2 separate regions of the Homo sapiens genome follow, and region 1 is linked to region 2. Evidence: fine-mapped expression QTL. A gene starts in region 2. The other region holds a variant in brackets. All regions are shown on one strand. Distances are from middle to middle.

Region 1 (5,373 bases), 29 kb after region 2:
GGTGGGGTTTCTCCATGTTGGTCAGGCTGGTCTCGAACTCCCGACTTCAGTTGGTCCACCCGCCTCGGCCTCCCAAAGTGCTGGGATTACAGGCGTGAGCCACCGCGCCCAGCCAGATATTTGTTTCTTGTTTAAATCCACTTGGTTCTTTTCGCTTTGTCTCTCTGCCCTCCCACCATTACGTACACAATGTTTTGGTTGCATGTTTCTGTCTGTTTTTGCATGCATGCATGTGTGCTCTGTCTCCTCCAAAGTTCAGGCCAAAGTTCACAGACGGCCATGGCTCTCCACCAAGCCCACTGCAGTGCTGTGTACACAGTGGAGGTTGCCTCCTTCATTGGCCCAGAGCCTGTTTGGGATCATTCACAATCCCTACAGTCTGCAGCCATCTCTACAAGAGGCCAGTTTGTATAGCTTTTCCTCATAGTATTCATTTCCACAGTGTTCTGTGTCCTGTACTGGATCTGTGCTGAGTTACTGAACATTAAGATTTTGCTTTTGTCTCAGAGACACCTGATGAGAACGTTGTGTGTCGTGACCTCAACCAGCTCAAAACAATTAAAATGTGATATCTCAACTGGATTGGAACACTTCTACCATTTCCCAGTAATACCTTTTGGGAGAGAAGGAGTAAATTTGGAGCTTGTCCTTTCAGGGATTGGGATTCACTGAGATACCAGGTCTCTTCTATTGCAAATAGAAAACAGTTTTTATATAAGGGTTGTAACTCTTGCCCATCCATCTGCAGAGTACATGCTTTTATGGGTTATTTATTTAAAAAAATTAAAGAGTTGTGTTAAACCATTTTTTTGTTGTTGTTGTTTTGAGACAGGGTCTTGTTCTGTCACCCAGGCTGGAGTGCAGTGGCACAATCTTGGCTCACTGCAGCCTCGACCTCCTAGGCGCAAGTGATCTTCCTACCTCGGTCTCCTGAGTAGCTGGGACTATAGGTGCACACCACCATCCCCAGCTAATTGTTTTTAAAAGTATTTTTTGCAGAGATGGAGTCTCACTATGTTGCCCAGGCTGGTCTCAAACTCCTGGGCTCATGCATTCCCCCTATCTCAGCCTCCCAAAGGCTGGGATTGCAGGCATGAGCCACCACGCCCGGCCTAAACCATTTTTATTCTCATCCAATGGTCTGAAGTTGAGAACCGTTGGTCAAAGTTAGGAGTGCTGCCTGTGACACTGGAGTGGATGGAAGTTCACTGGCCCACAAAGGAATCAGATTCGTGACCTTGGCCCTATTACCACTAAACCAACTAGGATATTAGCCCAGAGGCCTGGCAAAGATAGAGCTTGGCCACAACTCCCTTGAGAAAGAGCAGGCTACTCTGCAGATGACCATTTCTAGATCCCCATGGTTTCTGGGCAGTCTGACCCCAGATCCCCAGTGACCAGCTTCCCCTCACCCCAGATGGCTTCCTGTTTGAATGGTCTTCCTACTTCATTAGGTGGGAATAAGTCAAGATAAATGCCACTCAAGCCTATGTCAAGATGGTTAAGAGGAGGGGGCTGGGAACTAGGCACATCTGAATCTGCATCCCAGTGCTGCCGCTTGGTGCTACCTGGTCTTGGGCAAGTTGCTTAACCTCTCTAAACCTTATTTCCTCATGTTTAAAAAGGGTATTGTGATAGCTGCTACTTCATGTGTTTGCGGGGTGATTAAAGGAGAAAAGGCATGTAATGTGTGGAGCACTATGCTTGGAAGACAGTAGGTACTCACTTGGTGGTAGCTCTTCTTCATACATTCATAATATTGTAAATAGTGATAATAAGAAGCCATATTGAAAGTGATTACAACAAGACAGGGCCATGTTGGCCGTGCTCTCAGGACACAACCCCAGTCACTCCTGCCTGCCTTCTCCCAAGGTGACCCAGTTAGACAGTGCCAGCTTTGTTGGGGGCTGCTGAGTGAAGTGAGAATCCTGGCCTGCATCAGGCTGCCTGGGCATGACCCCTGAGCTAGCAGCCATGGGAGGGGAGCAGAAGGGGCAGGGGAGAAAGAGTGTGCTAGTGGGAGGGCTGGGACTTTGAGGAGGAAGTGGGTTTGTGGTAGGGACAGGGTGGGGTAAAGAAGAGGGATGGGCAGAGCTTGAGAGATTTTTAGCAGGAAGGAAGGCAGTTGAGCAAAAAAAGAAAAAAAAAATCCCTTTGTGTCTTATTGGCCTCTTGCTGTCATTTGCTGAAAATGAGGACTCAGATAAACCAATGCAAATCTTCTCGGGTATCACAAAACTCAGGCCTCTCTCTTTTTGTGTCTTTTGTGGGGCATGAGAGAGGTACGGTCTCATCATTGTCCTATCTGCAGCTCCAAAAAAGAAAAAACGGGCTGTGTTTTTCAGATGGTCAGACCATCAGACCAAGATTTAACATGCCTTTTTCAGCCTAAAAGTCTTCTTGCACAACCTGGTGTTATTTCCACAGGCAACTGAAGTAACTCTGCTCTTGAAATCCTGCCCCATGTGACTTTTTCTTGTTTGTTAGCCCAGTAACTAAATAGTCATGACAGGAAGAGAATCCCCCTGTTCTGTGAGGCAGGGACCTGGGAGGTCAGCAGCACCCTGTGGACATCTCCAGGGAGGGCACGTTATATCCTGTGTACTTGGGACAGGGGAAATAGAGCTGGTCCCCACTCTCGGGGGCCTAGCTTAATGCTCCGTGTCGTTCTTCAGCCACACAGTTATCCAACCGAGAGGCAGCTCGGTGTAAACAGAATGACTCTAGAGC[C/T]ATGCCCCATGGAACACTGGGCAGGTTCTCCTATCACAACAGGAAGCAAAGTCACAGGAGAGCAGGATGTCAAAAGCGAGGTTTCTTCAGCACCTGTGGAGACACCAACTTGTCTCCTCACCCTCCCCCATAGTTCCATCTTGGCTAGACCACTCACTTTCCCAGATTCATTTTCAGACCTTCATCCTCAAACTTCAATCAGGTTTTATATGGGAAAGGGGCCGGGGTGAACGATTTCATCCCAGTGGATCTATTTGATTCTGAGTCTCCTCATCTCACCCCTGAAATAGCCTATTGTTTGGAACAATCTGTTGTTTGAAATATCTCAGCTTGGTTGTTCTGTTTCCACCCATTTTGCACGTTCAAAATCAACCCCTAATCCTCATCTCCCAAATCATCTCAGTTTCCTTATTTCCATTAAACAGGACAGCCATTTATCCCATTGTTCAAGTACTACTTTGCCTCACCCATACTAGCTTCATAAATGGTCACCAGCAGATTCTGCTGATTCTTGATTCATCTGAAATGTCTCTTGTCACTGTCACTTCTGTACAATGCAAGCTTTTATCCCTTCCTCATGCCTGGACCTGGGTAACAGCCCCTTACCAGACCTCTCGGACTCACGCCAGCATTATCCACATTAATCTGCCTGGAACACAGGTTGCATCACTCTCTTTGCACAGAAGCCTCATCACTGGCTTCAGTACAAGGTCCAGCCGGGTGCCCAGCCTGGCATTCCCCACATTCCTCTCCATTCTGGCCACCAACTTCCCCAGGCAATCTCCCACCTCCCCAAAAGATACCCACACTCCTGCCATGCTGTTTTAATACCGCACCCTACCTGGTATGGGAGATGGTAACACAGGAAGGGAGAGAGGGAGGGAGGGAGGAAGGGAGGAAGGAAATGCACACTTCCATCTCCCCCGCAAATCTTTCTGTAGTGGTTCTAGTCTTTGCTACTACACCCTCGTCTGAACTCCACCATCAGTGTCTACGCCATTCATTAAAAAACAGACAAGCTACAGATGATGTGCAAGTGTGTTAAAAAAAAAATAAAAAACAAACAAACCACTTTTATTATAAAAATTTTCAGACTTACATAAAAACCCCTATGACCCCATCAACCAGTTTCAATAGCCATCAAGTTTGCCATACGTATTTAATCTATCCTCCCTTTACCTCCCCACCTTTTTGCTTTTTGGCTGAAGTTTTTTTTCTTTCTCTTTTTTTGAGACAGAGTCTCACTGTACCCCAGGCTGGAGTGCAGTGGCACGATCTTGGCTCACTGCAACCTCTGCCTCCTGGGTCCCAGTTCAAGCAATTCTCCTGCCTCAGCCTCCCGAGTAGCTGGGATTACAGGAATGTGCCACCATGCCCAGCTGATTTTTGTATTTTTAGTAGAGATGGGGTTTCACCATGTTGGCCAGGCTGGTCTTGAACTTGCCTGACCTTGTGATCCACCCGCCTCGGCCTCCCAAAATGCTGAGATTACAGGCGTGAGCCACCGCGCCCAGCCTGCTGAAGCATTTTAAAGCAAATTATAGGTGTTATGTCAACTTACTCCCAAATACTTTAGCATGCATCTTAGAAAGGGTATTTTCTTCTATCACCACAATGCCAAAAATTGATAATTCCTTCTTATCTACAGTCTATATTGAAGTTTCCCAAATTGTTCTTTTTAAAAGTTCATTTTCAGAACCAGGTGCGGTGGCTCATGCCTGTAATCCCAGCACTTTGGGAAGCCAAGGCAGGCAGATCACCTGAGGTCAGGAGCTCCAGACCAGCCTGGCCAACATGGCAAAACCCTGTCTCTACTAAAAATACAAAAATTAGCCGGGTATGGTGGCAGGCGCCTGTAATCCCGGGCATGGTGGCTCACACCTGTAATCTCAGCACTTTGGGAGGATTGTACTTGGTTATGTCTGTGAGGTCTCTTTTCAATCTTTTTTTTTTTTTTTTTTGAGATGATTTCGTTCTGTCACCCAGGCTGGAGTGCAGTGGCACAATCACTGCTCACTGCAACCTGAACCTCCCAGGCTCAAGCGATCCTCCCACCTCAGCCTCCTGAGTAGCTGGACTACAGACATGCACCACCATGCCTGGCTAATTTTTGTATTTTTTGTAGATATGGTTTTTTTTGTTTTTTTTTTTTTTGAGATGATTTCGTTCTGTCACCCAGGCTGGAGTGCAGTGGCGTGATCTCGGCTCACTGCAGCCTCCGCCTCCCAGGCTCAAGCAATTCTCCTGCCTCAGCCTCCAGAGTGGCTGGGATTACAGGTGCACACCACCTAGCCCAGCTAATTTTTATATTTTTAGTAGAAACAGGGTTTCTCTATGTTGGCCAGGCTGGTCTTGAACTTCTGACCTGAAGTGATCCACCTGCCTCGGCCTCCCAAAGTGCTGGGATTACAGGCCTGAGCCACCGTGTCTGTCCCAGGATTTTGCTATGTTGCCCAGGCTGGCCTCTAAGTCTTGTCCTCAAGCAGTCCTCCTGCCTCAGTCTCCCAAAGTGCTGGGATTACAGGTGTGAACCACCACACCCAGCCCTTTAACTCCTTTTAAGCTAGAGTAGTCTCTCCTCTACTTTTCCCCTCAAGTTAATAGGCCTGTAGAATGTCCTACATTCTGGATCTGCCCTGTGGT
Region 2 (5,373 bases):
AAGCTGCATCTCCTGGCTTGAAACCAACCAAATGTTTAATATTCAATTACTTTTATTAAAGTATACTATTAAGAAGTACAATACTAAGAAACTAGAATATCTTACTAAAAAGCAAATTAAATAACTATGAAATAACCCTAGCACCAAACCTTCAAACTACAGTTTGACAATTTAATGGGAGAAAAAAAATCAGTAGTATAAAAAAACTATGATATTTTAAATAAGTGTAAATTTTAAAATCTATGAATAGCAAAGACGATATTCTTTTATAGCTATGACATCATTCAAGAATTAAAGTCTTGGCAATGCCTATCATTATAGTCTACCATTTTGCTATGTAAATTTTAACAATTTTTATATGCTAAAGAGCAATCAAATGATAAATTCGATAGCACAGACTAATATCTCAAAATCTCTGTTCAAAAGCCAGTTTGATTCTAACTGTGAGATGTCATGATTTAGAAGCACTCCAAGAGTCAGGGCAAGGTAGGGTCTCAATAGGGTTCTGGAGCTGTTGTAGGTCAACTGTGATTTGATCTGGGGTTTTCTTTAGACTCCTTGCCAAACTAAGGCTGGATTCACAGGCCCAAAGACAAATGAGAACCAGACTGGCCTTGAAGGGGATGCTGCAGCTTTTTCAAATGAATTGAAAAATCTGAACATCAGATGATAGGGATTTCCGTCAGGTTGCAAATTTTATCTAAATATGTAGGAGCATTATCATCTTGTTCCAACATTTCTATCTCATAAAAAGCAAGGACATTAAAATTATAAAATTAAGCATGAGTAATACACAAAGAATAAACTAGAACACCAGGAAATAACATCGAAAATCCTCTAAACCTAGTGGGAAAAGTGAGCCAAAAAGAGTGCCAAGTTCTCCTGCAAGGCATTAGGCACGGATACCAATTTGAATTCCTGTACAAACCTACAAAGTCCCTGGAATCACTGCCTGGCAAACTAAGTTCCCATTCGACTGCAAAGCAACACTACCTACTCCTTCGTATTTCCAAATAGACCATGTGTATCGGCTCAGACAACAGAATATTTTAAATCTATTCCTTGAGCTAAAGGATACCATTTAAAGCTAACGATCCTGTGAATAAGATACTACACTGGTCAAATTTTAGGCTTTTTCTTTATAAATACATCCAAAGGCCAGCTAACTCTTAACCGTTGTTTGCATTCGGATTCCTGGTCTGATGACTCTTAGGGGCAATCAATGGGAAGTGAAGTTGAGAAGAAGGTGGGTGCAGACGGCTTTATAACTGTAAAAGTAAAGGACTAGCTAAAAGTGGCCGAACAGAGGAGCTGACACTCGGGAAAGTGAAGGTCGGGGAAGGTTCGTGCGGTTGTTAAAGCAAGACCGGGAAAGGGCAAACCTGGAAGAGGAGTGAAGGACTCTACTTCACGGGACGCAAGATAGGAAGTGCAGGTTAAGCAAGCGCGCAGGTGGGGAAGGGTGTTGGCCTCCCCTAGGATGGAAAGAGTTCAGGTGGGAATTAGAAGGAAACAGCCAAGACTTCACAGAAAACCTGTTTGAATAAGGAGGAGGGCGTGAGGTGACGCCAAGGCATTGTGGGGAACTCGGCTCACACACTACCAGTCCCAACTGAGCAGGAGAAACCCAGCAGGAAATGGCTCTGCTGGCGCAGAGGCAAGCGTTGCCAGCCCCTGCGCTCGCTGCTGGGGCTGCGCCCTCGGAGGTTACCTTTGAGCTGGGGCAGCGGGTGCAGCTCTGCCTGGCTGCCCTGGCTGCGAAACTGCGACGAGCCCTGGGAGCGCTTCTGCCTCTGCGCCTTGCGGACCGATTTCCGGGTGAAGCCGTCCACTTTCTCCGAGGCCGAGATGGCGGCGCTGGCAGCCCCCGCCGGCGGCGACGACGACGACATCTCCGCGGCCCTGACGCTTGGCAGCTCCGGCTGCTGCTTGCAAGGCACGGGCAGCGGCGGAGACGGCAGGAGGAGGCGGGGGAGAGGCGCGGGGTGCTCGCGCCCCTGCGCCCCGGCCCCACGGCCCTCCGGCCCCGGGACGCCGCCGAGCTTCTCCTCGCCGCCCGCCAACGCCTCACGGCCACATCTCAGCGCTGGAGGTTCCTGGTCCCCGGCGCGCGGCGAGCTCCCGGGGCTGACGGAGGGAAGGGCGGGGGCGGAGGGGGGTGAAGAAGTTGTTGACTCTGGGCGCGCAGAGCGGGTGGAAGAGAGCCCGAAGTTTAGACAACTGAGGCGGGGGCACGGGGGTGCGGGTGCCGAGCGCGCCTCTCGTCGCTTCTGCCCCCGTCGCCAGCCAGCCGGCCGGCCAGCACCTCAGCGGCCGCTGCCAGCGCAGCCCGCCCTGCCTGGAGCCTCCTCTCAGGGCGCTGCCATCGCGGGTCCCCTCGGAGCCACTGCCGCGGTGCCCGCTCTTCCCGGTCAACGCCGGCCCCTCATCGCCCGGGGCGCTGCCCCGTAGCCCCGGCCCTCTGCGTGCACACACTCGCTCCTTGCCGCGCTGGGCGGCCCGAACCCCCTCCCCCACGCGCCCGTCGGCCGCCCACGGAGAACCCCAGGCGAGCGACCGCTACAACTTGAGAAGGTGGTTGGTACAGGCGACTGGGGAGTGTGTGCGCGTGTGCGCGCGCCAGGGCGCGCGGCCCGGGGAGGGGCCTCGCAAGGGGTGGGAAGGAGGAGTTTGACTGACAACTTCCGCGGGGTCCCGCCCGCCTCTTGGTGCGGCGGCGGGGGAGGGGGCGGGAAAGCATGCCAGCCCTCTTAGCCAATCACACGGCTAAGCGGCAGCGACGGCGTGAGGTGCGGCCTCTTGAGGCAGAGGAGTGGGGCGGGCTGTGTGACGGGCTTCGGCCACAGCCAATCGTAAGTGAAGACGGCGAGCGGGGTGCCCCTGCGTCAGAACAAATGCGGCAAATCGCTTGGGAGGGAGGGGAAGCGCTCCTCCACCAGCGGGCATTTTTGCGCTCACGCGCGACTGCTCCAGGCTGTCATTGCTCTCCTGACCGTCTACGAGAAGACTGGGAAACTTGAGAGGGTGCGTTCAGAGAGCAAAATAGAGCGCCCCTTCCCTTCCCTCACCTCTCTGCTGGCCAATGAAGAACTGAAGCGATTGGTGGGGCGCCGGAGGGCTGGGGCGCGAAAGAGCGCCAGGTGTTACACCACTGAAAGGGGGCGCAGCAGAGGTCAGGTGGCGAGCAAGCAGTGTGATTGACGGGCGAGGGGCCCGGGGAAGGCGAGAAGGTGAGCTCGTCCAATCGTTGCGAGGTCTGGACACCTGGGCGGGTCTTGGCGCCTTACTGGCCCCAAACCGCAAAATTGGTAGTTGCGGAATAAATTTGTAGCTCTTGGGAGGTTCGGACTCCGCAACTCCAGAGAGCTACTCTCGCGTGGGGTTTGGGCAGTCTAGCATCTGCTGCTTCAAAGAGTTCTGCAAGTCCACGCCCTCTAAAAAGAGATTTCTCATTCCCAATTTAGTATCCTGCTAATTTTCACCCCTCCTTGAGCCAAAGGCCCTCAACTACTCCAACGAGAAGAGTACAAATTCATTGGTCAGTGGTGTGTGGATATGGAGGCTTGCCATGTACTCTTACCGGAATCTCTTTCTTGGAGATTCCGTCTAGATTTTGAATTTCTTAAGGACGAGGACTGGTCATCTTAGTTTTTCGTGCAGTGCTTTCCATACGGTGGCCGTTAATAATTATTAATCTGAACAGTCAGCCTCCCTTTGCGCCAATGGACCCAAATCTGTAATCCCCTCCCTCGAGCTCCAGACCTTTTCCTTTCAACATAATAAAAGTAATTGTCGTATATTTAAACGAAGCCACCTGATGCATATGTACAGAAGATTCCAAATTTGGCAGGAAGTTGAATTCTAGACCTAGAACCAAACATACTATCCTCAAAACATTTCCTCCTTCAGATTTGCTGGGCGGTGAAATTGTACATAATCCTCCCAGTCAAGGAGGTTCAAACCTCAGCAGCGTTTCTGACACTTTTCGCTTTCTCACATAGTCAAGCTCCAGATCATGTTAAATCTACTTTCACAATTGGCGTTTCTCCCAATGTGTACAAAGACCGCCAAACGTAGTTCACGGCTTTCAAACTCACTGCCACATCAATCTTTTAAGATCACTTTTATCTTACCTGCGTGTTTGAGGAACCACCCAATACCTGCAGAATAGAGTCCAAATTCAAGACTCTCTGCGATCTGACTCCTGTCTTTCCAAGTGTAAATTCCTACATGTGCCCACAAAAACTCTTTTTAGTTCAGGCACATCATTCCACATACTGATCCCCTAAAAGAAGTTATGCATCCTCAACACTTAGTCTTTGCTGTTCCAACATCTTGAAATAATCCACTTTTTTTTTTCTTTTTTGAGACGGAGTCTTGCTCTGTCACCCAGGCTGGAGTGCAATGGTGGCACAATCTCGGCTCACTGCATGCTCCGCCTCCCGGGTTCAAGCGATTCTCCTGCCTCAGCCTCCCGAGTAGCTGGGATTACAGGCACCTGCCACCACGCCCGGCTAATTTTTTGTATTTTTAGTAGCGACGGGGTTTCACCATGTTGCCCAGGCTTGTCTCGAACTCCTGACCTCGTGATTCGGCCACCTCCGCCTCCCAAAGCGCTGGGATTACAGGCGTGAGCCACCGCGCCCGGCCCATTTTTTTTTCATCTTTTTGAAATTTCTTTTCTTCAAACCCCCTATCTTTTATGAAGCTTGACAATCCAGCCAGAAGTGATGCCTCCCTTCTTTGTATTCCTATTGCATTTAGTGTCCACACCACTCACAGCTGAAAGTTTGTCAACACCAAGAGAGCAAGAACTCAGTTATTTTATTTTACACCTCTGTTTCCCCTACTGAGCAGAGGATAACAATCACATTTTTAGTTCTCAACAGCAGAATTTCTGAAAGCGTGGTTACTGGATCACCTGCATCAGCATCCTCTGGGGTGCTTATTGAAAATGCAGATTCCTGGACCTCCCCCGCCTCCCCCCAACAGAACTAGAACCTATGGGAAGAGCACTGAGAAGTCTATTTTTAATAACTTCCCTAGGTTATTCTTATGTACACAAAAGTTTGGAACTACTATTCTCTAGTCATCTAGAAGTTATTAAAAACAGAATGTAAATGTCTGTAAGTCAGGAGTAGTACTATTTATAATAATTTACATAAAATAAGAAAGGGAGACAAATAGCAGAAAGAAAATCAGTACAGGCCGGGCGCAGTGGCTCACGTCTGTAATCCCAGCACTTTGGGAGGCCGAGGTGGGTGATCACGAGGTCAGGAGTTTGAGACCAGCCTGGCCAACATGGTGAAACCCTGTCTCTACTAAAAATAAAAAATTAGCCAGGTGTGGTGGTACGAGCCTGTAGTCCCAGCT

Direction of the effects. Positions count from the first base shown, and alleles are read on the strand shown. Sizes are in standard deviations (SD) of each study's normalised expression.
As copies of C replace T in region 1, the expression in whole blood of the gene that starts at base 2,593 in region 2 goes down (large effect, 1.0 SD a copy in Lepik 2017).

What was found. PIP is the estimated chance that this variant, and not a neighbour inherited with it, causes the effect. A credible set is the group of variants that fine-mapping cannot tell apart.
Region 1: its variant is the best candidate, but not a certain one, in a credible set for the expression of PPP2R5A in whole blood (Lepik 2017, PIP 0.79).

Annotation. Positions count from the first base shown.
Region 1 is chr1:212,253,210-212,258,582 of GRCh38, reverse strand. All of the region lies in intron 1 of LINC02608 (long intergenic non-protein coding RNA 2608), which reads left to right. Among named protein-coding and RNA genes, the nearest start is that of LINC02608, 29 kb to the left of the region's middle. RefSeq lists enhancers at 2,112-2,291, 1,905-2,406. The variant C/T (reference allele first, on the strand shown) is at 2,731.
Region 2 is chr1:212,282,630-212,288,002 of GRCh38, reverse strand. It overlaps PPP2R5A (protein phosphatase 2 regulatory subunit B'alpha), which reads right to left and starts at 2,593. Exons shown (of 13, transcript NM_006243.4): 1 at 1,712-2,593. The coding sequence starts at 1,892. It overlaps LINC02608 (long intergenic non-protein coding RNA 2608), which reads left to right and starts at 2,982. Exons shown (of 4, transcript NR_125984.1): 1 at 2,982-3,024. RefSeq lists a silencer at 1,861-2,830 and an enhancer at 3,001-3,080.